Linked DNA regions of Homo sapiens: all the other regions are linked to region 3. Evidence: fine-mapped expression QTL. A gene starts in region 3. Each other region holds a variant in brackets. All regions are shown on one strand. Distances are between the middles of the regions.

Region 1 (9,798 bases), 50 kb before region 3:
TTTTAAAAAATTGCGAGGACTTTGGGAAGGACACAATACCTGGTAACAAACACCTGAGGGCCTATCCGACGAGGGTCCAAGGACAGGACCTGTCCTGCAAGTTCCCAGAGTATGGAACCTCCCGGAAGCCAAGCTCCAGCATCACAGCACACATCACAGCCAGCATTCCCTGCACACCTGCCACGGTCAGGCCAGAAGCTTTCATCAGCATTAGAGGATTTTCTCACTTCATACCCACAACAGCCCTAGGAGGTAGATGGGACTGCCCCCAGTTTCGGGTGAAGAAAATGAGGCTGGAGAAGGTAGGTAACTGGCCCACAGGCATCCAGTAAGTGCAGGGGCTGAGATCCTAATGGGAGCACCTGTGCAACTGGCTGCTGCTGTACGCCACCATCAGCGCAGAGAACGTGGGCCGCAGCTTCGGCATGTCCAGGCTCAACCAAGTCCCACTGTCGCTTGCTTGCATGTGACCTCTGGCTATTTACTCAACCACGCGGTGCCTGGGTAAAAACTGCAATTAACACCACCAACCTCGAAGGCCGGCTGGGACAATGAAATGAGATGACTGTGCCCAGCAGCTCCTGGCACGTAAAGGGCTCCATAAACATCCGGTTTCTTTTTTTTTTTCCCCAAAAGTGGAGAAAATGACAAAGATGGAGGAGACTGTCTCAGCAGGTAGAGCGTGTGTACCCCGTCAAAGGAGGCGAGGAGATGCAGCACAGCAAAGAGCCGCTCAGCAAAAACAAATACCACACGGGCACTGGCCCCAACGACCTTGAAGGTTCTGCCCTTGAAATCCGATGCGGCTACAACGTAAGACCCCTTCCCGAGAGTGGGCTTTGCTAGAAGCAAGAAGGGAGTGATCCAAGAGCACTGGGATCCTAAAGGAATCAAGGTCGCCACAAAAAAAGAAAATGTGCAAAGAAACAGAAGGCTGGAAAACAGCAAAAATAAAGTTTGCCGGTAAAAATAGAAGTAACTCACATTTTTAGAGCACGGCCGTGTGTGCCAGACACTCTGCTAAGCGTTTTGTGTAGGTTATCTCACTGACTCTGCACATCTCTGTGGGCCGGTACTATTATTATCCCCATCTCACTGGTGAGGCAGCAGAAGCCGAAAGAGGTTCAGGAGCTTGCCCGAGGTCACGCAGTTAGGAAGGGCCCACTCTGCCACCCTGCCCCAGGCCAGTCCCGAGAAGCCCTATCACCTGGATGCAGTCACCTGACTTTGGGGTGTTGCCTCCAGACACCATCTGCCCAGCTCCCACCCTCTGCTGTCCGTCACACCTGGAGATGCCTTTCCAGAGCAGAAAATCAGCCCCAAGCAGCAGCAAACCTCTCCCTGCCTTGCTGTGGCCAGCAAGCGGAAAGCTAGTAGCTGACGCGAACAAGAAAACATGAGAGGATCAAGTAAACATTTGGGGAAATGTTGTTAAATAGAGGGGGAAAAATGGGGAACTTCCGTTTTCACCAGCTCGATCAGCTTTAGGGCGAAACCGCAGGCTGCTTCAAGCGGCTGCCAAATGCCCAGCCAGATCCTGCCAGTGCGCTGGCACTGAGGGCAGGAGGAATCAGGTTTCCCAGGCTGGTGGGGCAGGGCTGGCCACCGGGGGAAGCGGAAGTAGAAGGGAAGCGACCCTCTGGCCACCCCAACAGCACTATCCTGGAGAGGGCCAAAGAGGCGGTACAGCCGCCCAGAGACCTTCCCAAGTTGCCAAGTTTGTCCCACACATCGGTGATCCACGCAAGAAAGAGGATGCAGGGAGGGATCAAAGAAGACCCAGGGGCCTGGGCACCTCCAAGTACACCTGATATCTGAATGCACAGAGGGCATGGAGGGGTTGGTCAGGGATGAACAATAAACAGGGTTCTACCTCTGCCAGGCTCCCGTCACTGCTTCCCCGAGGGACAGCTGGCCCCAGGGACGCCACTCCACACGGCAGGAACCGTTCATCCTACCCTTGAGCTGCCCAGCAAGGGAATTATGAAGATGAAAAAGGCAAATGCTGAAAGGAAGCTGAGCTCTTAATTTTTGCTTAAGCTAACATTCAAGGGCTTACAATGTATCAGACACTAGGCCAAGTCCTATACATGGATTATCTCATTTAATGTTCTTAACAGCCCTACAAGGTAGTTACCACCAACATCACCATTTCATAAGTGGACAAATTGAGTGCCAAAGAGTTAAGGGATACATGTGATGACGAGCTTGTGTGTGGTGGAATTAGGATGCAAACCCATGTGGTCTGACCTCACAACCCACACTCCTAACCAACATCCTTTACCACTTCCTGAAACAGACTCTCAGGAGGTAGTAGAAGGAACTATTAATCTTAGCTCCTAACCTTTGAGCATTTACAGCTTCATAAAGGGGATGGATAGACGGATCCAATGCATAGAAAAACTACCTCGGAAAACACATGTCACATTACTAACACGTGCATCCATTTCGGTTGTGCAAAGTCCTGTGGGTGGGTGTGCAGGCAGTGGGGAGCCACTGGAGTGACTGGAGAGGAGAAGAGTGGGCACTCGATTTTAAAATACGATGCTGCACAATAGCCAAAAGGTAGAAACACCCAAATGTCCATCACTGGGTAAAAGGGCAAAAAAATGTGGCATATACACACAATGGAATATTACTCAGCCATAAAAAGGGAGGAAATCTGACACAGGCTACAGCATGGATGAACCTTGAGGGTACAATGCTAAGTGAAGTAAGCCAGTCACGAAAGGTTCAATATTGCATGATTCCACTTACATGAGGTACCTGGAATAATCCAATTCATAGCCAGAAAATGGATGATGATAACCAGGGGCTGGAAGTAGGGGGAGAATGGGAAGTTATCATCTAATGGGTGCACAGTGTCAGTGTGGGATGATGAAAAAGTTGTGAAAAGAGATAGTGTGATGATTGCACAATAATGTATATGTACTTAATGTCAGTTAAAAATGGTTGAAATGGTCAATTTTATGTTGCGTATATTTCACAATAAAAAATTCCAAAATATAATGATGGTGATGTGATGAGGTGCTGAATCTCAAAGTGTTTAGTCTTTCCTTTTAGTGAGGAACAGAGTGGTTACCCAGGCAGCCTCGTGCAGAGTGCAGGGGTGCCTGACTCACCATAAAGCCAGGAAGGTATTTCTTGGGGGGCTATGGGTAATTCAGCCTTTCGTGGGGCTTTTGTTGGGGCAGGGGTTGAGACAGGGTCTCACTATGTTGCCCAGGCTGGTCTTGAACTTCTGGGCTCAAGCAATCCTCCTGCCTTGGCTTCCTGGGTAGCTGGGACTACAGCTGCACCACCACGCCCAGCCTCCTTTTGTGTGTAAGGCCCCCTTGAAGACACTCTGAAATCACGCCTTCTGTGTTTTGAAAGTTCATTTCCCACTGAGCTTGAATATCCAAGAAAGTCAGTGAGATTAGCCATTTTGTGTTTGCAGGCCCAAAAGGAGGGCATCCTACAGGTGGAGCTGGAGAAAAAGTGGTCAGGGCCCTGGATCTATGAGATAATGGACACTGAACCACATCCCTGGCTCAGTCTGCCACCCCAAACAACTTGAGAACAGAGACAAGAATGGGAAAAACCTCTCTGCCAAAAATAACAATATTGTAATATCGGTAGTACCATCATGCACCACATAACAATGCTTCAGCCAATGACGGACCACACATACGACAGTGGTCCCCTAAGATTACAACGGAGCTGAAAAATTCCTACCGCCCAGTGACATCATAGGTGTCGTAATCCAACAACACACAGTCTTGACGTGTGTGTGGTGATGCTGATGTAAACAAGCCCACTGCACTGCCAGTCGTGTAAAAATGTCTACCACAAGGTGGGCATGCCACCAAGCCTGTAGTCCCAGCTAATACGAAGGTGGAGGTGGAAGGATCACTTGAGCCCAGGAGTTCGAGTCTAACCTGGGCAACATAGCAAGACCCCATGAATTTTTTAAAAATATGTCTACCACAGCACATACAATTATGGACAGTACATAATACTTAAGAATAATAAACAACTATGTTACTGGTTTATGTATTTGCTATACTATACTTTTACCATTATTTTAGAGTATATGCCTTTAATTAATTTTCTTTAAAGTGGCTGGGTGCGGTGGCTCACACCTGTAATCCCAGCACTTTGGGAGGCCGAGGCAGGTGGATCACAAGGTCAGGAGATCAAGACCACCCTGGCTAACACGGTGAAACCCCATCTCTACTAAAAATACAAAAAATTAGCCGGGCATCGTGGCAGGCGCCTGTAGTCCCAGCTGCTCGGGAGGCTGAGGCAGGAGAATGGCGTGAACCCAGGAGACGGAGCTTGCAGTGAGCCGAGATTGCGCCCCTGCACTCCAGCCTGGGCAAGAGTGCAAGACTCCGTCTCAAAAAAAAAAAAA[T/A]TTTTCTTTAAAGTTAAGTAAAACGGCCTCAAGCAGGTCCTTTACAAGGTATCCAGAAGGCACTGTTGTCACAGGAGACGACAGCTCCGTTATGTATTGCCCCTGAAGACCTTCCAGCGGGACAAGATGTAGAGGTCTCACTATGTTGCCCAGGCTGGTCTCCAACTCCTGGGCTCAAGTGATCCTCCTGCCTCAGCCTCCCAAAGTGCTGGGATTATAGTCGTGAGCCTCCACACCTGGCCAGAAAAATATTTATATAAATTTATAAATTTAGTGTAGTCTAGCACAAGTTGGACATGCTACCAAGCCTGTAGTCCCAGCTACTTGGGAGGCAAAGGTAGAAGGATCACTTGATCCAGGAATTCGAGTCCAGCCTGGGCAACACAGCGAGACTCCATGAATTTTTTTTGCTTCCTGTATCACCTGCAGAACCATGAGTCAATTAAATCTTTTTTGTTGTTGTTTTGTTTGTTTGTTTGAGACAGGGTCTCACTCAGGTGCCCAAGCTGGAGTGCAGTGGTGCAATCCCAGCTCATTGCAGCCTCCTCCACCTCCTACACTCAAGCAATCCTCCCACTTCAGCCTCCCAAGTAGTTAGGGCTACAGGTAGTTTTTGTAGAGACAGGGTCTCACTATGTTGCCCAGGCTAGTCTCAATTTCCTGGGCTCAAGGGATCCTCCTGCCTCCGCCTCCCAAAGTGTTGGGATTACAGGTGTGAGCCCCCAGGCCTGGCCCAAATCTCTGTCCTTATAAATTACCCAGTCTCAGGTATTTCTTTATAGCAGTGCAAGAACAGCCTAATACAGGGGTACCACTTTAAATCTTTTATACTGTATTTTTAGTGTACACATAGAAAAGGTGCGGTAAAGGTACACATATCCAAATCACTCTGGCAGCTCCAGCGTATAGACACACAAACACTCTTGTGTTAGAATTGCCTACAGTATTCAGCACAGAAGCATGCTGTACAAGTTTGTAGCCTAGGAGCAAAAGGCTCTTCCCTAGAGCCTAGGTGTGCCGTAGGCCATACCATCCAGGTTTGTGTAAGTGCACTCTGATGTTCACGCAACAACAAAATCACCTAACAGTGCATTTCCCAGAACACAGCCCAGTCGTGAAGCAACACGTGACTGTATAGTTATCGATCCCTTATTAAGCATTTTGTAAGTACTCTCCCTTAACCCTCACAACATCCCTGTGAGGTCTTATGCATTTGACAGAGGAGGAAAGTGAAGCTGCAAAAGGTTAAGAGAAGTGTTCACAGTCACTACACTAGTGAGCCAGGATCTGAATCTCTCATCCAAAACTTACTTTCTCAACCACTATAGGAGAGCATTTTCACTAGACACTTGAACACAACAAACGCAACAGAAGTCTCTATTGTTGGGAGGGAATATTGCCACAAAGGCCAGCATTCATCCAAACAACAGGTTTTGAGCCCTCAAATGCCAGGCGATGTGCTGAGTCCTCGTTCATAATCCATGAAACACAAACAAAAAGGCTGTTCTTGGGCTATGATCACAAGTGTTCTCTGGGCTCACTTGAGGGTCAGTTTCAAACGTATTGTCAGCCACAGAACCATTCCTCTGTGGTGACACCAGGCTGCCCTGGTGTCACCCAGCAGGCCACAACAACAAGGCACTATTTTACATTGGGCTTTCAAAGGCCATTTAAGGCAGGAGTCGCAAATTCTTCTATCTGACAAACATCATCTGAACCACAGAGAAAAAAAATCAATTAAATTCCATGAGAAGAAAGAACCTTAAATTAGGGTCTTCTTATAGAGTGAAAAATATGAAATGTCTCTCTCATCAGAGTATTCGGAAAAACAGCCAATAAGAACAGTACCTATTTTTTAAAAATAATTATTTAGTTGTAAATTTACATCCAATTAAGGGAGAAAACTGCGGGGGGAAGAATGTGTTAGAGGAGAGGAAGAAGGAACTCCAATGCAGAGGCCTCATCTCCCAAGTACACTTAAAGCCCTGTTCTGGAAAGTGCTGGAGCCTGTTTTGCAATGAAAGGTGCTGTGCTGAGCACGCAGCAAAACACTCTGCAATCCTCTGAGACACCAAAGCACTTCTGATGTTTTTGTTGTTGTGGTTCACTAGAGAAATGTTAGCAAGTACATAACATAAAAAAAAAAAAATCACTAATAATCACGAACTACCATTAGCATTTTTGGTGTATTTCCTCTAACCTTTCTTCTTTTTTAAAAAAAATTAGGATTTGTAGTGTTATATCTTACAATATTTGCTTGACATTTTTTCATTAATGTTATTTTGTTTTGTTTTTTCAGAGACAGGGTCTCACTCTGTCACCCAGGCTAAAGCACAATGGCATGATCATAGCTCACTGCAGCCTCCACCTCCCAGGCTTGAGTAATCCTCCCACCTCAGCCTCCTGAGTAGCTGGAACCACAGAGGCACACCCCTATACCTGACTAATTTATTAAAAATTTTTTTGTAGAGACAGGGGTCTCACTATGTTGCCTAGGCTGGTCTCGAACTCCTGGGCTCAAGCGATCCTCCTGCCTCAGCCTCCCAAAATGCTGGGATTACAGATGTGAGCCACCACACCTGGCCTATTTTGAGTCATTATATATAATTCTTGAAGACATAATTTTTAAAAGCCCACACAGTGGTCCATCAGGCTGGGCGCGGTGGCTCACACCTGTAATCCCAGCACTTTGGGAGGTCGAGGCAGGCGGATCACCTGAGGTTGGGAGTTCAAGATAAGCCTGATCAACATAGAGAAACCCTGTCTCTACTAAAAATCCAAAATTAGCCACGCGTGTTGGTTGTGCATGCCTGTAATCCCAGCTACTCAGGAGGCTGAGGCAGGAGAATTGCTTGAACCCACGAGATCAAGCCATTGCACTCCAGCCTGGGCAACAAGAGCAAAACTCCATCCAAAAAAAAAAAAGAATGTATCAAAATTTATATAACTAATTTTCTATTGTTAGACATTCAGTATGCTTCCAATTTTTAGCTACTATAAATAGTGCTGCAATGAAAAAATATAACTACTTTGGTATAAACTCCAAAGAACAGAATTATGAATGAATGTTTCTAAGGCCTTTGATATAAACTTCCAAATAATTGCACTAAAAATAATTCTAAGCAATGTTGCATTTTTGCAACTCTAGACATAAATGGGACTATATCTCAGTATTTTCTACATGGACAGTTTAAGTCATGCTGACAGATAAATCCGTTCTGTGCGCCAGGAATTTCTCACTTCTGTTTTGAAGTGTCTTCTACTAGTTGCTCATATACCAGCTGAAAATGTGCTTCCAAACTACCCTGGCAGCTCCACTGCTAGCACCAACCACATTGTATCTTACATCAGAGGCAGCTGGTGGCCTGCCTGCTTCCCGCACTCCAGGAGTGCAAGGACCAAGCCCGGCTCACCTCTGCCTCCTCCCTGCACAGCTCCTTTTAAACCTCTCATCCTTCATCAACAGTTCTCAAACTATTTTTTAAACTCTTCCGCACATCCTCATCCCTCCCTAACTCATGTGTCACAGGATACGAAGTGGGAAGGATCTGAGACCTTGGGCAAGCTCCCTAGCCTCTTGGACTTCAGACTCATCTGTAAAATGGGAGTAACCATCCCTCTCCCAGAGAGTGCCTGCAAGGATTAAGGTAGGTAATGCATGCAAAGCTCTTAGTAACCATGACAGGAGCCTTAGAAAATACTCAATAAGTAATAATTTTTCCCAAAAAAAAAAAATACATAATAATAAACCCACCAAAAAATTGTTTAATCCTCCACACACTGGAGGAGATTAATGAATCATACAGCTGTCTCTCTCATCTGAAGCTCGCCCAGGCCCTGAATGCCTGGAGAGAGACTCAGAACCTTCGGGGACTGTGCCAAACCCACTGAGCCTCAGGCCAAGGGCAAGGGAGGTCTGGCAATGCCAGGCTTGGGACGGCAGGCGGGCAGCTGGTCAGCACAGAGCCACAGAAGCTCTAGGTCAGCTGTGCACAAAGAAGGGTTAAGGACAAGCTACAGGGAAATCAAAAAGAAACAGCCTGAATCAATCCAACTGGGACAGGGCTCTAGGGCACCAAGAGTAAGCAGGGAAGCGGTTCAAGGAGCAACAGGTTCCTCCCAACTAGCAGCTTGGATGCAGGTGAGGGATGCAGACGCCACTCCCGAGCTAACCCTGGACAAATCTCCTGTTGTTCGTCGACGGGGCTGGAGTTGAGTCACTGTGGCATTGTCCAGCCACTCTATCAGGAGGAAACAGCTGGACAGACCAACACTAAATGCAGGAAGCCTCAAGCTCCACCAGGGCTCCCTGTGGGGCCGCCTCCCTGTTTGGGAGGCCTAGCATCCTGCCTGCCTCTCCCCCAGGGACCCCTGACCAACCCTGAAGCATCCACTGTCCAAACAGACATCCCTGTTTCCTGCCTCCAAGTGCCTGGGGCAAAACGCAAGCTCTCTGTTTGGCATTTTGGCAGCCCTCCTAGGGGCAAGGAGGCGGGGTCACCTGCTTTCAACCTGCCAGTAAATAGAAACCAAGGTGTAGGAAAACAAGTGGTAGAGAAAAAACAATGACATTTAATTAATTCAGAAAGGACATACTGTGTAGCAAGAGGACAGTTTTTCTCTGGACTAAAACATGAGCAACATCCAAAAGTGGACGCCACCTCCCTGCAGGAGCACATTCAGACAGATGCGGGGACTCAAACCTCTCTGTTAAGAGGGGTTCTTGCCAACTTCCTTATCTATGGTCTCCTAGGCTCAGACAAAAGATTCAAAATCCCTGCTAGGATTTAGAAATAACTCAGGGCCAGGTGTGGTATCTCACACCTGTAATCCCAGCACTTTAGGAGGCCAAGACAGAAGGAGACCAGTTTGAGACCAGCCTGGACAACATACAAACAAAAAAAATTTTAATTTGCCAAGCATGGTGGTGTGTGCCTGAAGTCCTAGCTACTCAGCCGATCAACGCTGCAGTGAGCTATGATTGTGCTACTGCACACCAGCCTGGGTGACAGAGCAAGACTCTATCTCCTTTTTTTTTTTGAGATAGAGTCTCACTCTGTCGCCCAGGCTGGAGTGCAGGCTCACTGCAAGCTCCACCTCCCGGGTTCACGCCATTCTCCTGCCTCAGCCTCCTGAGTAGCTAGGACTACAGGCACCCACCACCACACCCGGCTAATTTTTGTATTTTTAGTAGAAATGGGGTTTCACTGTGTTAGCTAGGATGGTCTCGATCTCCTGACCTCGTGATCTGCCTGCCTCGGCCTCCCAAAGTGCTGGGATTACAGGCGTGAGCCACGCGCCCGGCCAACTCTATCTCTTTTTAAGACAAAAAACGAGGGGAGGGGAGGGGAGAACTCAGAAAAACAGCAGGATGGTTCACAGTTTAAAGTCAGACAGACTCA
Region 2 (9,798 bases), 200 kb before region 3:
CCCTGCCACTGTCCCAGCACAGCAAAACCTAAGGACTGCTTCCCCTTCCAGAAGCAAGGGGGAAAGTGAGCAGCATCCGAACTAGAGAGGTATTTGTCTGACAGTTTCTAGCAGGAATGTCTGTGAAATAACTGGGGTGTGCAGAACCTGTTGTGGGAATACCCACATGGGGTGGAAGGGGAAGCCTCGCGTGCCAGCAGAGAGCGGGAGGAAGGGAGAAAGAAAAAACCAACAACTGCTCATCAGTGAAAAGTCTAAGGACCCCTCTAGCTCTGCCACAGCACCGTGGGGCCCCCCTGCCCTGGCATTTCCAGCTCGATTGGTTAGCAAACGCCACCTCCCGTGCAGGGGCACCTCCAGCCTGCTTCACGCTCCACCCGCCTCTCCCAGGCTCCTGTCCTCAGACACCAGGCCTGGCAAGGTCCCGTGTCCTGTCCACGCCCCCTCCTTCCCACACGTTCTGAGGGCGCAGGCGCGCCCCATCCGAGAGCCTCCTGGGTGTCGCACGGTGGTCTGTCCTGATTGAGACTGGACAGATGTCCTCTCTTCCCACCCATCCCTCACCCTCAGGGAAAAAAAGTCAAACCATTAAAGAAATCAACACAGTAAAAAGTTACAAATCAGAAATCTAACCCTAAACTTATCTGAGAGATAATATTCCTGAATAATCATAGAGTAAAATAAAATAAAAAAGTTACATTGTAAGGTATAAAAAGCCTGGGCGAGATGCTCCAGGGGCCTTGCCCAGAGGCCGGCAGACCCCCGCCCCGCCAGGTGCCCCATGGTGGCCATGGATGTCGCAGCCCCCGCTGGGGCGGTATCTCCACGGGGCGGGCACTCTGCTCCCCACCCCATGTGGGGACAAAGTGTCAGTGTGAGGAAGGGCAGGGGCAGAAGCCCATCAGTGCCGGGGGTTCCTCCGGAGCGCACCCCAGCCCACCCTGTCGTCTTTGGCAAATACGCATATGCAGATGCAGGAATCCAGGGGCCCCGAGCCCCAGGTCTCCGTGTGCCTCCTCCTCCCTGGCACTCCACCCACTGAGAAGTCCGAGGCTGAGGCAGGGTAGGTGGGGTAGGGCAGGCTGTGGGGGGTGGGTGCAGGGGTCATATCTGGAGAGCGCAGGCAGGTGACACAAAGCTCAATCCTCTTCCCTCCACAGGGCAGCAGGGCGGGGTGGGCACTCCCGGCCAGCCCGCTCATGCGTCGTACTTCTTACCAGTCCGGTGGATGTGCTGGAAGAGGGTCATGGAGAAGGCCATGCCCAGGATCTGAAAGACACGGGGAGGGGCCTGAGGCAGGAGCTGCAGCAGCCTGGACCTGACCTCAGCCCCGAGAGGCTTGGGATGTCACAGGGCACCTAGAGCAAGCGGGGATGGCCACTGGTGTGCCAGGAAAATGCTTATGGAATGAAGACATGAAGAAAACCGTGAACAGAGGTCACCCTGGAGACACACACAGGTGAACTCTGGCTCAGCCTCGTGGGGCTGTTAGACCAGAAGCCATCGAACCTCTGCAGGATGCATACGTGTGCCTACTCAGAGGGGCGCTGCAGGCACGGAATGCACGGAGGACCTGGCTCTACGTGGGGGCTCACAGGAGCCAAGGTGGGGAGTGGGAGGTGGCAGGGATCATTCAGGACTCAGGCCAGCCGGGCACGGTGGCACTTTAGGAGGCCAAGGTGGGAGGATGGCTTGAGATCGGCCTGGGCAATAGAGGGAGACTCCATCTGTTTTTGGAAAAAAGTTGTAAATCATTCAGGTATGGTGGTGTATATGCCTGTAGTCCCAGCTACTTGAGAGGCTGAAGTGGGACGATGGCTTGAGCCCAGGAGTTTGTGGCTGCAGCGAGCTATGACGGCGCCACCGCACTCCAGCCTGAGCAACAAAGTGAGACCCTGTCTCTTAAAAAAAGAAAAATAAAGGACTCCTGTCAAGCCTCTCTTGTCTGCTTGTGGAACACATGGTGCGATGTCTTGGCAGCAGCAGGGCTGTCTTTCCAGTGATGTGTGCTCAGGACCACGTCACTACTCGTTTGTGCCCCTTCCCTCCTGAATCCTCAAAGGAGCCGGGGACCCAGAGGAGTGCAGGAGGCAGAAGGAAGCCCGGTGTGGTCTCACGGTCACCACAGAGAGTGTGCCATGTGCACAGGCTGTAAAGATGGTGACCGGGGGACACCGTGTGTGTCTTGCATGGCTCTCTGAGCTCAAGGTTTGGGCAGAACTGGGGGAACCCACGGGGGTTGACTCCAGCTTCAATATCCCAGCCTGGGCCTGGCCACAGGCAGCCCTGAGCACCACTCTCAGTGCTGAGTAGACACGTGCTCTCATATCAGAGCTCTGCGGAAACGGTGGCAGGCACAGCTGCTAAGCTTGAATAGCTGTGATGAATTCCAGACCCTCCGCCGTGTACCAACACTGCTTTCACTTCTCTGTGCTTCCTTCCCTCTGAGGCTGAGGCCAGCAGGGTGGGTGAGGCTGCTGGGGACGCCCCTCTTACCTGCATGATGAGGATGCACATCCCCACCGTGCCCAGCACGTGCTTATTGTCATCGAACCACATCTTCACCTTTTCATAGCAGCCCTGGGGAGCGAGGCCCACGAGGTTAGGGTCCCAGCCCAAGCATGCGCTCCCTGCAGCCCAGCCCCCAGCTCACTCTCTCCTTCCACCTCGTCCTCGCTCTTACCTCCCAGCCCTCCCTGGCCTCAGCCCTGTCCCCATCCCTTGGCGCAGCCTCCGCCCCACCCGCAAGGCCAGCTGCAGAGCCTCAGACCCCATTCAACCCCTCGCCCTCTGACTCTCCCAACTGTGGGTCCAGCCCCACCCCCCATTTTCCACCTGTCTTTTGGCTTTATTTTTGTGAGCCCCCCACCGCCACATTCAGCCAACCTCTTAGTGTCCCGGGCCCAGCCTCCCCTATAGGGCTCCCCGTGCCGGGGCATCCACACACGGGCTCTTGGACCCAAGCGGTCCATCCCCAGCCTCACCGTTCTCCACAAAGGCGTGGTGGCGTTGCGCCCGCAGCCCTGGGAGTTCTCCATGCAGCAGCGGTCGGGAACCGTGTTCTCCCCCAGCACTGGGTACCAGTCTGTGTAGTCAGTGACACCACAGCATCGCATCTGGCCAGCAGGAATGGAAGGGGCAGTCAGACATGCCATGGCCCGCCCCTTCCTCCCCAGGGCCTTCCCCTGCCCAGGCCAACCCCAGTCCCCGCAAAAGTGGCCACCCTGCAGTTAAGGGAGGAGACAAAGGGCTTGCTTCTTGTCCCTTCTTTGGGCTTCAGCCGGGCCCACTGGAGAAGTGAGTGAGCACTCCTTCCTGGAGACCAGAGCGGGAGAGGGCAATGCAGCCCACCCCTCGGGCTGGGCCCCTTGGCTCAGCCCTGTGCTTGCCCACCAGCACCTCTGCTCTTTCTGTAAACCGTCCCAAGCTGACTGCCACCCAACCCCCTGCCGGCCCCTCCCCAGGGCTTAAAATGGGAGCATCTGGGACTATGGACTTGTTCTCCTCCTAGAGCCAGGGCCTCCTCACCTAAGCCAAGCCCCATCATGGAGGCAAATCTGTTGCTAAAATAAATTCAGTCATTCATCCCAAAGCTCAGCCACAGCTCTCTCAGGCCTGCCCCTCCTGTATCCTCATCCCTCCCTGGCTGTACCTTGCTGTATCACATCTGACTCAGCAGTTCAGGCAAATGCCCCCGTGGGTACCACTCCACTCCCGGCTAAAATCCAGAAAGCACAGGTGCCCGGCCAGGTCACCGGGGAAGGCAGCTAGAAGTACCGGCCGCCACCCCTCCTCCCTGCCTGGCCCCACCAGGGCGGCCCAGCCCGCACCTCAGCCTGGATGATGTTCCAGGCGTTCTTCAGCCCCACGTTGTTCTCGGTGTGGTACAGCAGCAGGCCTTCCTTCAGGTCCTTCTTGGCGTTCTCGTTCACCTGCCAGGCGGAGGGACACAGTGAGACGGTTGGAACCAGGACGCAGCTCGTCTCTCCAGCCCACCTCAGGTCACCCAGGATGGTGGGTGACAGATGAGGAGTGAGGAAGGCAGGGAAGGCAGCTGGTCTGGAAGGCCCTGCCCACTGGGGTGGGGGCCTCTGCTGGCCCAACAGAGGTGCGGGGTTAGGCACACACTCCCAGTTTCAGAATACAGCAGGCCCTGGTGCACCCACCGCCTCCCGGCAGAGCTAAACTCAGGGCCAGGGCTGTAACACCCAGAGGCAAAAAAACACACCACGTGCCTCCACTCCCCCATCCCAGGACCAGCCACACACACAGGCCACTCTGCCACCCCCGCCCCCCACTACACAGCTTCCCCACAGACTGCCCCTCTCAAAACACACCCTGGGAACTAGAGGGAGGAAGACAGGTCATGTGACCTTCACCTCCCTCACCGCTGTTCTACCCGATGTTGAACAGCAGCATCTACTCATGGCGCTGTTGTTAGAATTAAGGGAAACAATTCTCATAAAAGGGCCAAGAACAGGGCTGGCACAGAGAAATCTCTCAACATTGTTCTTTCTTCCTTTTCACGAGTGCAAAACTAAAAGATTATTCTTTCTCATCCTAACGATGTCTCTAACTTTCAGTGTGGCTCAGGCAGCTATTTCAAGAACTGCTCCTTACACAGTTCTGGAGTGCATGGTACCAAAGGGCCTGCCACGCCCCAAGAGACTGAAATCCCGGCCAACCTCGCTCTTGACTGCGAACTGCCCAGCCTGGCGAGGTTACAGGGGGTCACCCACCATCCTCCTGAACCCAGGAGCAGCGCCCGTCCTCAAGGGCTCTAGTGCAGGAAACAGAGCTTCCCTGTGCCTCAGTCCTGCTCAGCCAGCGTCGCCCAGAGAGTTCCTCCTTGTTTTTCATGGTTTGCTCTCAAATCACCCAGCCCAACCACCTGATGAGGTCTGAATCCCTTCTCCAAGTAGCTTAATTCCTTCCAGTGAGAGGGAGCTCACTAGCGCCAGAGGCAGCCCACTGCCATCTCTGGTCATGCAGAGGATTCCACTTCCTGGAACTATACAAAGTCAACTCTCCCATCCTCCAAATTTGCCTGCCCCATGCTGCCCCCATCAAAACCTTCCATCTGCTCTTTCCTTGGTAGCTTTCCCAACCCTTGGTTCCATGTTCCTTTCTGCACAGGTGCTGCTTGCCAGCACTCTTCCTCTGGCCAGGGAAGGGACCCTGGCCTGCTTGGCCCAACTCTAAGGGCAGTGACATTCCATATGCCCCCTCCCATCTGGTAAGGCTTACCTTGTCCATGTAGACAAAGAAGAGGATGAGTAAGATCAGCTCTGCTAGGAGGATGACCAACAGGACGATGAAAAACTGGAAAGGAAAGGGCCAGGCATGGGTAGGTGGTAATGGGCAGGGCTGAGGACAAGGAGGGTGTGGAAGGCAGGGACAGGCGGCGCCTAGGTGGGGCTTCCCAGGTCTGGGAGAAGCCAGCTCCTCCTGAGGAAACCCAGATAGCTAGGACAGAGACATAAAGGAGCTGACTAATCAGGGAGTGGGAGGGACAACCAGGGGTAGGCATAACCAACCATGAGGAGGAGGGGTGTGGTCAAGCCTAGAACGTTCTAGAAGCAGTTTCCCTGGGCTCAGGTTGGACACCCAGGTGGCTAATATTCCAGGTCTTGCCTGTCCCAGGGGTCCAAGTGCAAGGAGATCAGGAGTTGGAGGGGCTGGGGATTTGGACAGAACTTACGCTGAGGAGGAGGCACTTGTTTTCCTTGATGGCCCCCAGGCAGCCGAGGAAGCCCGTCACCATGACAATGGTGCCTATGGC[A/G]ATGACCAGGTTGGCTGCAGACAACGAAGGGAAGCTGGGGGAGAAGGTGGCAAAGTTGCCTTGGGACACGGAGAGCCAGATGCCCACTCCCAGCAGCCCACAGCCACAGAGCTGGAAAGGAAGGAAAGCCCATTAGCCTGGCGCTGCTCTCACATTCGTCCATGGACCTGGGAACAGTGCAGGTCCCCACCCCATGCTCTGAGACACAGACAAAGTGAGAACCGACAAGGTGAGAACGGGACTACCGTTGGGCTGCAGACCCGAAGCATGTCGGCTGTGTGACCCAGACAGTCCCCTAGCCTCTCTGTGCCTCAGTCTCCCCATGTGACAACGGAGACTGTGCCAGTTTCAAGAGCCTCCCAGGTCATTCTGAGGATGGATTAAACCACACAGAGGCAAAAGTGCGTAACAAATACGTGGAAGGTACTGGACACATGTGAGTGGTTAGGTTACTCTGCATGATAGAGAAGAGGCCCCAGTGTCCAAGACGGAGGCCTGGTGAGAGGGGAGAACTGGGGTCAGGAAAAGCAAGAAAGACTTCATCTCTGGAGGTGGGAAGGGACCCTCGGAGTCGGGTTTCTTGGAGCCAGAACTTCCAGCGACTGTGTCCTGTTACTCTGACCCGAAGGGCCATTTGTCCACTGGAGTCTGAAGAACAATTTCCCACAGATGGAGAAAGGAGGCAGTCATCGGCTGGCTGGGGGCCTGGCCAGTGTGCGGGACGTGGGAGTCCACGGCTGCCTTCACCACCCATCCAATAAGCTGGCCTCTGGCATGATCGGCCCCCAAACCGAAAAGCAACTCTCCCCAACAGCACCCCTGGGGCTGCCGGCGCCACCAGCTCCACCTGGGGAAGCTTCCATTTCACCGGCTGCAAATCTCCACATCTGTCTTATTTTATGCTCGATATAGCTGGCACTCCCCGACTCCCTCCGCCAGCTCATGGGAAGTGTGCTGAGTCTGAGGAGCCAATCAATCAGTGAAACAGTATTTACTGAGTGCCTACAGCATGCAGTGTGCCATGCCAGAAAAGCTACAACCACTTTAAAGACCTGTTTTCCAGGGGCCTCTGTTCTGGCTGGATGGGAGCAATCAAAGTGCAAAATCTACCACTCCCAGGTGGGATGGACTGGTGCCCAGTCAACGCTACGGGCGCTCAGAGGAGGCAATCACTGTCGCAGTCATGGAAGCCAGTTGAAGGAGGCAGTCCCTAAAGGGTGGGTGGACTAGGGGCAGATGGAGGACGAGAACATTCTATGCCGGGTGAAAGTGCAGGTGGTAAGGGCTTGGGAGTCACAGACCCAAACAGGACTCCCGGCTCCAGCTTATCCTGGTGGTGTGAGCTTGCAAACCTCTCGTATGCAGAGTGAGAATATCATCCCCTTCCTATTGGACTGCTGTGAGAATTAGATTGGAATAAGCTACGTGAAGTGGGTGGCCAGCTCCGGGCACTGCTTGCTGGAAAGGCACTTCCCGGGCAGCTGTTCTGTGCCAGGGCCTGTGCAGACTATGCTGACTCCAGGAATCAGCCCAGCCCCTGCTCTCAAGCTGCTCTGGTTCCTGGGAAGAAACAGAGGCTCAGGGCTGAGACAGGGCAACCCGCAATTAGGCAGGGTAGGGATGCCCATGGGAAGGTGAGGGGAGGGGACAGACGCCTCCCTGAGGAAGGGCATCTCCTTCGCTTATTCCTCCACAAACCCAAGTGAACACCTGCGTATTCAGTGCCAGGCCCTGTTCTCCAAGCTGGGGAGACAGTGGTACACCTCACTGGCAAAGACCCTGCCTTCACGAAGAGTAGATTCTTACAGGAGACACTGACCTTATGTAAGCAACAAATGACGTAACTGCAGTTGCTGACATGCGCCACGAAGAAAAATAAGGCAATGTAAAGAGCCAGAAAATAACTGGGGAGGGTGTGGGCAGCGAAGGTGTCTTGGAAGAGGTGGTGTTTAAGCAAAAACCCAAATAAACAGGGGGAGGGAGCAACATAACTATCTGGGGGAAGAACGTTCCAGACAGAGAGAACAGCAGGTGCAAAAGCCCCGGAGTGGGAAGGAGCCTGGCCAGCCAAGGAGGAGCACGCTGGCCGTGTGCTACAACAGTGAGTGAGGTGACACATGGTAGGAGACAAAGCAGGCGGGGTGGCCGGGGGCCAGGCCAGCTGGGACCTCGCAGGTAAAGGAAACGTGCAAGTGTCCTCAGTGTGACGGGAAGGTCCCAGAGCTGGAGAGTGACATGATCTCACTGAGGTTTTCAGCAGATCACTCTGGCTGCTGTTTGGAGAAGCGACCGCGGGAGGGCCCGAGGGAGGCCAGGAGAGCAACTGGGAGGCTGCTGTGATTAGGCTTGGGTTTGTGGAGGAATAAGAAGGAGATGCCCTTCCTCAGGGAGGCGTCTGTCCCCTCCCCTCACCTTCCCGTGGGCATCCCTACCCTGCCTAATTGCGAGCCTCTCTTTCTTCCCAGGAGCCAGACCAGCTTGAGAGCTGGGGACGACTCATACCAGGAGGCTACGGAGGAGCGGTGAGAAATGGTCCAATTTGAGATGTTTTGAAGGTGGCATTGACAGGCCTTGCTGGGCTTTGAAGAATGAATAGGATTTTGATAAATGGGGAACCAGAAAGGTGTGCATGAAGAAAAAGGTAGGAACAGACACCGCCACGTATTACTAACCAAGAGACAGTGCAAGGAGCTGCAGGGGGGTCCGAATGATTTACGTCCAGCAGCTGCCTGGGTCCTTCACACTGTGGAGAGTGGGCCTGTGCCTCCTGTCCCCTGGCGCAGCCCCACATGGAACCACGTCAGGGCTCCCAAAGAATGGGCACACTGAGACCCACAGCATCGCCCAACTGGGCCATCACAAAGCTTCGCCAGGGAACGGGGCTAGCCCCGCCTACGGCCACTAGGTGGCGCTCCAGGCTGGTTCAGAAGCTCTGGGTTCGCCAGCGATGGCTGAAACTTTCATCCAAATAGTCACTCTGACTTTTCTTCAATCTGGTCAGTTTCTATGCTGCCGTCTCAATTTTTCTTTCATTAATCATACCATGGAGAATTTATGATCTTCATGCTGAAGATTTATGGCTCTAAAAGCCAGACCCTGGAATGAGTAAGCGGAAACCCCACTGCCGCAGGTACTCGCTGCAGGGGAGCTGCAGGGCGCCCCCACACGCTGCAGCTGGAGACACGCAGGACCCCAGAGCTCAGAGCCCGGACCCTTCTCGGGCCTGGAAAAGTTCTCAAAGCACAGCCTTCTCCTGAAGCGGTTTCCCACTGTGGGTGTACCTGCAGCGGGGGGCCCCTTCCGAGCCCTCTCTCCACTTCCCTCCTGGGATAAGTGCTGGGATGCTCAGGTACCTCTACCTAGGAAAACCTCTTAGGTCAGAAACTCCAGGACCTGGTCACCTCTCTTCAAACTGGTTCTCTGACTTCACACTCCACATCCTTTGATTTGGTCTTGCCAGACCCACCTGGGAGCCTTCTACCTCTCAGGGAACACAGCTGGTGCCCTGTCCCCAAATCTGCTTCCTTTCCCATTTCCTGTCCAAAGTCCTCCAGGCCCCCAGGAAAGATCTGCGGCCTACCCTACGGGGGCGCAGTCTGGACTGGAAGGCTTCCTCTCCAAGCCCTCAAACCTGTTCCTGCCTCCATCACAGCTCCCGCCTGGCACAACTCCACGCATGGTGCACGTCTGCCCAGTGAGGAGGCCTGTGCAGTACAGCGGGTGCCACGCACATCCCCACTGCCACGCTCCCATCCTCAAGGGGCTCCTGCCGAGATGAGCTCTCTGCTCCCATCTTCTGATGGCCCAACACTAACAGAGCCTCCCGGCAAGAAGAAAACACAAAGGTCACGCCTCGATTTTCCAGGAAGCTAAGCGGGGGGACAAGGAAGTCCCCAGTCACACTGCTGGGCTGGGACAAAACCTTGGTTTCTGGCATTTGGTGCAGAAGCCTTCACTACCTGCTCCCAGGGGACCTCCGACTGACAGGTGACAGGCACCAACACTGGGCCTTCGCC
Region 3 (9,798 bases):
GGGTTCCCAGGAAAAAGAGGTTCATTTGGGATGGGATGCCAGGGTCTTGAGAGGAGCTCAGACATGAGAAAGGTCTTGAAAGAGGAGAGGGATGGAAGAACCAACCAGGAAGGTGGAAGAGGATGAACTAAGGGGCCAAGAAGGAACGCGCAAAGCATGCTTGGGAGATAAGTCTGGCTAGAACCAAGGGTTCCAGGAGGGAGGAGAGTGGCGATAAGGCTAGACAGGCAGGATGCTGAATGCCAGGCGAATGCACCGGGATTAGATCCACTCCCTCTTAGTCAGTGAGGATGACAACCACTGCAGGCTGGGCCCTCACGGCAGAGAAAAGAAGTCTTGTCCTCTCTTGTTCCAAGCATCTTAGTCCAGTCTCCTCCACGAGGTTATAAATAACAGCCACCGTTTACTGCACACCTGCTGTATATGAGGCCCTGAGCTACGTGCCTCACATACATCAGCTCATGGCTCCTTCCCAACACCCTGAGTACTTGGTATTGTTATCCTCATTTTGCAAGCAAGGAGCTGAGACTAAAGGAGGTGAAGGCATCCGCCCAAGTCCCAACCCACTCACTCATTCACTTAACAGTGCTGGCTGGCCCTGGGGTTACAGGCCTGCGAAAAGGGGGCACTCCCTCCAGCCACCCCAGGTTCAAGGGCTTCCCACCTAAGCTGGGCTGCTTCTCCACAACTCTCCCGATTAATTCCTCAAGGTCAGCATTTACTAAGCACACAGCAGGAGCTTAATAAAGCACACTAAACAGACAGAATAGTGGCTGCCAGAGGCTGGGAGGAGGGGGAAACAGTTGTTTCAAGAATATTAAAGCTTCAGTTTTACAAGGTAATTTCTGGAGCTGTCGCACAACAATGTAAATAGACTTAATGCTACTGAACTGTACATTTAAGAATGGTTAAAATGTACACTTAAGATTTTACATTTGCCAGGCGCGGTGGCTCATGCTTGTAATCCCAGCACTTTTTGGGGCCGAGGAGGGTGGATCATGAGGTCAGGAGTTCAAGACCAGCCTGGCCAACATGGTGAAACCCCGTCTCTACTAAAAAAAATACAAAATTTAGCCGAGGGTGATGGCGGGCGCCTGTAGTCCCAGCTACTGGGGAGGCTGAGGCAGAGAATTGCTTGAACCCGGGAGGCGGAGGTTGCAGTGAGCTGTGATTATGCCACTGCACTCCAGCCTGGGCGACAGAGTGAGACTCCATCTCAAAAACAACAACAACAAAAAAAAGATTTTACATTCAGTGTTTTTTTAACCACAATTTTAGAATTTTTTATATAAAGCACACTTCCTAATTGATTGAGTGGCTGCCAATATCTTACACTGTTAATTATCTGATGCTGGAAGAGACTCTAGAATATTTCTAATCCAATATACCACCAAAACAGAGAGTTGGAAAGAGGAGGTAAATTGCCCAAGGTTGCACAAATAGGTGGTGCCAGGTGAAGACAAGGCTCAACATAGAGGAAAGGGGCTGGGCGTGGTGGCTCACGCCTGTAATCCCAACACTTTGGGAGGCCAAGGTAGGAGAATTGCTTGAGGCCAGGAGTTCAAGACCAGAGACCAGCCTGGGCAACATAGCACAACCCTGTCTCTACCAAAAAAAAAAAAAAAATTTTTTTAATTATCTGAGCATGGGGCCTGTACCTATAGTCCCAGCTACTCGGGAGGCTAAGGTGGGAGGATCACTTGAGCCCAGGAGTTGGAGGCTGCAGTGAGCTGCTTGTGTCCCTGTGCTCCAGCCCAGGCAACAAAGCAAGACCCTGTCTCTAAAAAAAAAAAAAAAAAATAGAAGAAGGGGCTAAGTACGGTGGTTCATGCCTGTAATCCCAGCACTTTGGGAGGCCAAGGCAGGCGGATCACCTGAGGTCAGGAGTTTGAGACCAGTCTGGCCAACATGGCGAAACTCCATCTCTACTAAAAATACAAAAATTAGCCAGGTGTGGTGGCGGGCACCTGTAATCCCAGTTACTTGGGAGGTTGAGGCAGGAGAATCACTTGAACCCAGTAGGCAGAGGTTGCAGTGAGCCGAGATAGTGCCATCGCACTCCAGCCTGGGCAACAAAAGCAAAAGTCTGTCTCAGAAAAAAATAAATAAATAAAATAGAAGAAGGGCAGAGAGGCAGATGGCAGAATAGATGGCACAAGGCAGGAAGGTCAGAAGCCAGGGTTCAAGTTTTGCTTCTTTCACTTAATGAGTGTTGTGACCTTAGATAAGATACTTATTCTCTCTGAGTATCATTTTCTTAACCTATAAGAAGGCAATTAAAAGTAACAAACTTCAGCCAATGCGGTGGCTCACGCCTATAATCCCAGCACTGTGGGAGGCCAAGGCAGGTGGATCACTTGAGGTCAGGAGTTCAAGACCAGCCTGGTCAACATGGCAAAACCTCATCTCTACTAAAAATACAAAAATTAGAAGGCGTGGCGGCACGCGCCTGTAATCCCAGCTACTCGGGAGGCTGAGGCAGGAGAATGGCTTGAACCTGGGACGCGGGGGTTGCAGTGAGCTGAGATCCTGCCACTGCACTCCAGCCTGGGCAACAGAGTGAGACTCTGTCTCAAAAAAAAAAAAAAAAGTAACAAATTTCACAAGATTACGTATGAATTAAATAAAATTATATACAGCTAATGTAACGTGCATAGAAAAAACTTGGCCAACTATAAATTACTTTATCAACACTAGTTATTGTTATTAATATTAAATATCTGTTCATAGGTTTAAAAAGCTCTGCCAGAATATTAAAATCTGATTAAACCAGACCAAAAAAAAAAAAATCCTACTCTCACCTGTTCAGGGACTTGCACACAGGGCGTCTTCAGTGAGTGAGAGTAGAACTGAATTACACTTCAAGTTTTATCTACCCCAATCCTCTCCCTCCAACCCACAGCCCAGCTGCATCAGCCATGCCAGGACCAAGCCGAGGGTAGGAAGCCGGTGTAATTGTCTGCCTCTCTGGCTGCATTCCTTAGCTAAATATAAATGATTTGTCCAGGCTATTGTTTGAAATTATCCATAATCCCTCTCCTCCCCTCCCCATTACTTATGATGGCAAGCTGGCTGCGTATCTCTATAGCAAAGCATATATTCAACATTCTCTGTGGCTATTTTCAGTAAAGAGAAGGGAGCTGGCAGGTATATATAGGGATCCTCGCATGAGTCTTCAGTTTTCTCCACTAGTCCAGGAAAGCTTCCTGGAGGAGGAAATACCTGAGTCACCCCAGGGAAAAGGACAGCTGCAGGTCAGAAGGGCACGCGCACATAATGAGAGACTGGGTCTCTGAACTAAGAGTTACCAGGTAAGGCAGGTAAGCCCCTGCCTTCTTACCCCCCGTTTTGGTGATGCGAGAAAAAGGTAGCTCAGGGGATCCCATACTAGCCCAAGCTTCCCCAGACAAAACAGGCATTTGGGGGAAGATGAAGCAGTGACTCGTATATTTTTCAAAGAGGGAGGAGATCCAAGACTCCAGTTCCAAGATGTACAAGTACAAATATTGCTCTTACAACAACAAGCCGGTTTCTTGTTTGGATCTTTTTTTAAAAACCACAAGAAAGTTTTTTGAAGTCCCAAACTTGAATGCACAGATGGGCTAGATCTCCAACTTCGGGATGTGCCAGAGTCCTGTCACTCGGAGTGCTGATCTTCCAGCAGTGGCCCAGGGAGCGGTCGCGGGTGCCGGGGGGCTGCAGGCCATATCCCAGCCCTGCCCGAAGGCCCCCTGGCCCTCTCTGGGGTCCTTGTATGGACTGTCCCAAGCGGTGCACGGGGTCACACAGTCGGAAACCCTTGCCGGCCCCGGGTTACTCCCTTTCTGAAACGGTCTTCCTCGGAGCCATCCCCTGGAGGACCCCACTTCGCTCGGTGCCCGGGCCCCGCACCCACCCTCCCCTTCCCGGCCCGCTTCCCGCACGGCGCCTACTCTGTTCCTCGTCCTCTCGTCCCACCGCCGCCCTGCCCACACTGCCTCCCGTGGGCGCCCCCGGCCGCTCCCCCTTCTCGGGTCTCGGCCTGGGGGTGCCCAGCCCGCCCGGCGCCGGCTCAAGGCCGCGCGACTCCGCACGCTCTCGAGACCCGCCTCGCCGCCCGCCGCCCGGGCCGCACTCACCGCGCCCGCAGGACCTGGGGGTCTCCGCTCTGCTCGCGCTCCGGCACCGCCGCCGCCGCCGCCGCCAGCGGAAACAGGGGGCGGGGCCTGCCCGGGAATGGCGAGCCTGCGGGGCGGGGCGGCCCGGGGGCGGAGCGGGGAGGGGCGGGGCGGAGCGGGGAGGGGCGGGGCGGAGAAGGATCGCAGGGCTGAGCGGGGCGCCAGCGCCAGTGCCCGGCACTGCCCCGGGCTGGGTCCCCTGCGTTAGAGGAAGGGGAGCCCGGGGACGGGGCACGGGGCCCGCGAGGCACGGGTGCTCTCTCGGGGTTCCGGAAGCCTCCCTCCCCGCCCCGCCGCCCGCATGCCCGGACCGGCCGCTCCTCCGAGGTGCTATGATCCCGCCTTCCCCCTGCGGCGAACGGGCCTCTTCCCGGGGTAGGGGCGGGGAGGTCCGGGCCTGGCAGTGCGCTCTCCTGGGCTCTGCGCCCACACGGCACCCAAGGGCCTTCCTGGCCCAGGCCTCGGCTCTCTCCCTCGCGCCAGGCTGCCTGGCCTCGCCACCCCACCCCCACACCTACGAACCCCTTCCCTGGTGTTTCGGGCGGACTGTGCGAGATGCTGACAGCGCGGGTGTGTGTTGGAGCCTGCCTGAGACACCTCCCGCAGAAAGGGCCATGCCTCCCCAGGAGCTGGCGGCCTCCAAGGGCGACTACAGGGCACCGTGTGCCTGAGGGGTGCGCTAAGGCAGGAGAAACTCCAGCTAGGCATGTCTGGCCCGGGCGCTTTTTCAGGCCTGGATTTTATGTGTTTTTTGCTTTTTGTTTTGTTTTGTTTTTTCTTGAGACAAGGACTCACTCTGTTGCCCAGGCAGGAGTGCAGTGGTGCGATCACGGCTCACTGCAGCCTCGACTTCCCGGGCTCAAGTGATCCCGCCTCAGCCTCCAGAGTAGTTGGGACTGTAGGCGCGCACCACCACGTCCGGCGAAGTTTTTGATTTTTTTTGTACAGACGGTGGTCTCCCTGGGCCCAAGCTGGTCTCAAACTCCCGGGCTCAAGCCATCCTCCTGCCTCTGCCTCCCAAAGTGCTGGGATTATAGGCCCGGATTCTTAAAGCTAGAAGGCCTAAACTTGTTTCCAAAGAGCACTAAAACGCCATCTCTTCTCATCATTACTGTCATCAAAAATGTCTTCTAGGCCAGGTGTGGTGGCTCACGCGTGTAATCCCAGGACTTTGGGGGGCCCAGGTGGAAGGATTGCTTGAGCTCAGGAACTCAGGAATTCAAGAACAGCCTGGGCAACATAGGGAAACCCCATCTCAAAAAAAAAATGTTTTAATTAACCGGGTGTGGTGGCACACCCCTGTAGTCCCAGCTGCTCCGGAGGCTGAGGCTCAGGCGTTGGAGGCTGCAGTAAACTAGGATCATGCCACTGTACTCCAGCCTGGGCAGTAGAGGGAGACCCTGTCTTTAAAAGTGAAATTTTTTTAAATTTTAAAGAAACTGTATGCTGTGCTTCCCACGTGCCCTACCATTGCACTAAGCTTGACTGGGGACAAGTTTTTAAAACCTGGCTATAATCACTAGGGTCACTTTTGCTTTCTGCTAATTAGACTGGAAGTTTCCACTCATCTTCTGGGCCCCTTTCCGTCACACACATGCAACCTTGTTTTTGTCTATTAGACTAAACCCATAACCCATTTCCTTCTGATCTCCCTTTCCCCACAAGGAAAATATTCTCCTTCTACATTTTGCTTCATCCAAAGCCCTGTTCAATGCCCCTATAACAAAGTCTTCCCAAGGAACCCCCACCAGCCCCAATCTCTCCAGTCACTGCGGCAGAGTTGGGTACATGTACCCAGAAAAGGAAACTGGGTCTCAGACAGGGAAAGAGATATACTAGGATTGTCTGCCAGCAAGCCAACTCACTGGCAGACCATTGGACGCAGCCTGGTGAGGGAGTAGCCGCAGGGCTTGGGAGCCAGACACACCTGTCTGAATCCTGGCTCTGCTTTTATCGGCTGGGACCTCTTCAGGCCTGTTTTCTCACCTGTGGAATGGGGCATAAGAATACCAATTATGGGGATGGGCATGGTGGCTCACACCTGTAATCCCAGTACTTAGGGAGGCCGAGGCGGGTGGATTACCTGAGATCAGGAGTTTGAGACCAGCCTGGCCAACATGGTGAAACCCCGTCTCCACTAAAAATACAAAAATTAGCCGGGTGTGGTGGCACATGCCTGTAATCCCAGCTACTCGGAGGGCTGAGGCAGGAGAATTGCTTGAGCCTGGGAGACGGAGGTTGCAGTGAGCCAAGATCGTGCCACTGCACTCCAGCCTGGTCGACAGAGCGAGACTGTCTCAAAAAAAAAAAAAAAAAAAAACCAATTCCACAGGGTTGATGGGCTGACCAAGATGATGGAGTAAAAGCACAACATGTGATGTGTGGTGACTGCTCTACAAATGCTAGCTTCCTCCTGCCCTTTTTGGTTTTTGTTTTGTTTTGTTGTTTTTGAGACAGGGACTTGTTCTGCCACCCAGGCTGGAGGGCAGTGGTGCCATCATGGCTCACTGCAGCCTCCAACTCCTGGACTCAAGGATCCTCCAACCTCAGACTCCTAAGTAGCTGGGACCACACGTGCATGCCACCATACCCAGCTAATTGGGGTTTTTGTTTGTTTTGTTTTTGTTTTTGTTTTCGTTTTCGTTTTGTTTTGTAGAGACAGAGGCCTCACTATGTTGCTCAAGCTAGTTTTGAACTCCTGGCCTCAAGCAATCCTCCCACCTTGGCCTCCCAAAGTCCTCCTGCCCTTTAAAAAAAGATAGGCGGAGCACAGTGGCTCACACCTGTCATCCCAGCACTTTGGGAGGCCAAGGCAGGTGGATCACTCAAGCCCAGGAGTTCGAGACCAGCCTGGCCAACATGGCAAAACCCCATCTCTACTAAAAATACAAAAATTAGCCAGGTGTGCATGGGCGTGGTGGCACATGCCTGTACGGGAGGCTGAGGTGAGAGGATTGCTTGAGCCCAGGAGGTCAAGGCTGCAGTGAACCATGATTATACCACTGCTCTCCAGCCTGGGTGACAGAGTGAGACTCTGTCTCAAATTAATTAATTAATTAGAGCAAATCTGAAATAATGGAATTCTGAAGTCTTAGAGATAGATGAAATCTTAGAAGAAATCCCTCAGCAATAGCCCAGAAAATGGCTTCACTGCTCACTCTCCTTCACCACATTCAGAGGTGAATGCCTCAGTGCCTCTGAGGGGCTGACAGTTGGAAGGAAGCTCTGAAGAAAAGCTGTAGAGGAGATGGGATTATTCAGCATAAAGGACACAAAGGTGACTAGTGGTCTGTGAAGCAGACACACTGATAGTGTCCACTGAGGACTAAACGCAAGTAAACCTGACAATGACGCACCACCCTCTTGGGGAAGGGACTTACAAACGCATGAAGTCACTGCTTATCATACCAGGCTTCTGAGGAAATGTCATTGCATTTCCCTTCTGGAGGAGATTCTGAAAAATGCTGAGGTTAGATATAGGTAGGGTGACTGTATCCAGGTTTCGGGGGCACATCCTACTTACTCCTCTTGTCCTGGCATAGTTCCTAAGTCCCCTTTCACTCTCGAAATATCCTGGCGTGGATGATAAATTATATGCCATTTTAACTGTGAACAAAGGCAGGACTCCAAACAGCTCCTTCCAGGCCTGGATGTCAGCAACTCTGCTGGAATTTCTGGATCCCCAGGGACTTCAAAGGATAGCATGTCAGTTTATCCCCTTGAAATCACCAAATCAAATCAAAAATGACAATAGGCTAAAATTAAAGTCCCAGCCAACCACCCCAAGTCAAGCTTCAGGACTGTGCCTGCTGAATTGCGACACCTAGTGGCGAAAGTGCACGCTGCCGGAGCGGGGTTCCGCCAACACTTCACATTCGGCCATAGGTTTCAAGTGACTTGCAAAGCAGCTAACAGCTAACATGTACTGTTTATGTGCCAGGCACAGTTCTAAGTACTTTACATGTTCTAACCCACTGATCCTCACAACAACACCATGAGGTAGGTAGTAGCATCACCATCCCGACATTTTTACAGATGAGGAAACTGAGGCTGAGACAGGTTAAGTAATTTCTCCAAGGTCATTTCACCAGCAATTGACTAAGCTAGGATATAACCCCAGGTTGTCTGGCTGGAGGGCCTGCACAGTTAACTACTGCTCCATCCAGAGTGTAATGCACAAAGTTACTTCGGAGGAATCTTCCACCTGAAGAGACTTCCACCACCCCTCTGACATGGAGATGACCTGAGGGTAGAGTGAGAGGTAGAATGTATGAAGAGTTCCACTCTCGGCCAGGCGCAGTGGCTTATGCCTATAATCCCAGCACTTCGGGAGGCTGAGGTGGGTGAATCCCCTGAGGTTAGGAGTTTGAGACCAGCCTGGCCAACATGGTGAAACCCCGTCTCCACTAAAAATACAAAAATTAGCCGGGCCTGTAATCCCAGCTACTCGGGAGGCTGAGACAGGAGAATCACTTGAACCTGGGAGGCGGAGGTTGCAGTGAGCCAAGATCGTGCCACTGCACTCCAGCCTGGGCAACAGGACGAGACTTCGTCTAAAAAAAAAGAGTTCCACTCTCATGTCTACCAGTACAGAATAGTAGTTTCCACATCTATAAAAATCGCCTGGGCCTGGCGTGGTGGCTCACGCCTGTAATCCCAGCACTTTGGAAGGCCGAGGCGGGTGGCTCACCTGAGGTCAGGAGTTCCAGATTAGCCTGGCCAACGTGGTGAAACCCTGTCTCTACTAAAATTACAAAAATTAGCTGGCCGTGGTGGCGGGCGCCTGTAATCCCAGCTACTTGGGAGGCTGAGGCAGGAGAATCGCTTGAACCCGGGAGCGGGGGGTTGCAGTGGGCCAAGATCATGCCACTGCCCTCCAGCCTGGGCGACAGAGCGAGACTCTGTCAAAAAAAAAAAAAAAAGTCGCCTGGGCACGATGGCTCATACCTGTAATCTCAGCACTTTAGGAGGCCGAGGTGGGCGGATCACCTGAGGTCAGGAGTTTGAGACTAGCCTGACCAACATGGTGAAACCGTGTCTCTGCTAAAAATACAAAAAAAAGTTAGCCAGGCGTAGTGGCGAACGCCTGTAATCCCAGCTACTCGGAGGCTGAGGCAGGAGACTTACTTGAACCTGGGAGGCGGAGGTTGCAGTGAGCAGAGATCGCACCACTGCACTCCAGCCTGGGTGACAGAGCAAGACTCCGTCTCACAAAAAAAAAAAAAAAAAAAGGAAAAAAAAATGCTTTCCCAGGCGACCGGGGAAGACGGCGGAGGTGCAGGTCCTGGTGCTCGGTGGTCGAGGCCATCTCCTGGGCCGCCTGGCGGCCATCGTGGCTAAGCAGGTACTGCTGGGCCAGAAGGTGGTGGTCGTACGCTGCGAGGGCATCAACATTTCTGGCAATTTCTACAGAAACATGTTGCATGTTAAAGCACCTGGCCTTCCTCCACAAGCGGATGAACTCCAACCCTTCCTGAGGCCCCTGCCACGTCCGGGCCCCCAACGCATCTTCCTGCGGGCGGTGCGAGGCATGCTGCCCCCCAGGACCAAGCGAGGCCAGGCCGCCCTGGACCGCCTCAAGGTGTCTGACGGCATCCCACCGCCCTACGACGAGAAAAACCGGATGGTGGTTCCTGCTGCC

Alleles and levels. Alleles are on the strand shown, and positions count from the first base shown. SD is a standard deviation of normalised expression in the study named. Not every link is listed here.
As copies of A replace T in region 1, the expression in macrophages of the gene that starts at base 4,193 in region 3 goes down (large effect, 0.76 SD a copy in Nedelec 2016).

Evidence for each region.
Region 1: its variant is fine-mapped to the expression of TSPAN9 in macrophages (Nedelec 2016, PIP 0.93).
Region 2: its variant is fine-mapped to the expression of TSPAN9 in testis (GTEx, PIP above 0.99).

What each region holds. Positions count from the first base shown.
Region 1 is chr12:3,121,959-3,131,756 of GRCh38, reverse strand. The region is part of intron 2 of TSPAN9 (tetraspanin 9); the gene reads right to left. Among named protein-coding and RNA genes, the nearest start is that of TSPAN9-IT1, 23 kb to the left of the region's middle. The variant T/A (reference allele first, on the strand shown) is at 4,397.
Region 2 is chr12:3,274,516-3,284,313 of GRCh38, reverse strand. It overlaps TSPAN9 (tetraspanin 9), which reads right to left. Exons shown (of 9, transcript NM_006675.5): 4 at 5,702-5,893; 5 at 5,248-5,322; 6 at 3,831-3,932; 7 at 2,985-3,116; 8 at 2,497-2,580; 9 at 1-1,269. The coding sequence ends at 1,198. Among named protein-coding and RNA genes, the nearest start is that of LINC02827, 21 kb to the left of the region's middle. RefSeq lists an enhancer at 1-88. The variant A/G (reference allele first, on the strand shown) is at 5,783.
Region 3 is chr12:3,071,774-3,081,571 of GRCh38, reverse strand. It overlaps TSPAN9 (tetraspanin 9), which reads right to left and starts at 4,193. Exons shown (of 9, transcript NM_006675.5): 1 at 4,119-4,193. It also overlaps the pseudogene RPL13AP24. RefSeq lists silencers at 4,088-4,587, 4,638-4,687, 7,904-8,053 and an enhancer at 7,835-8,129.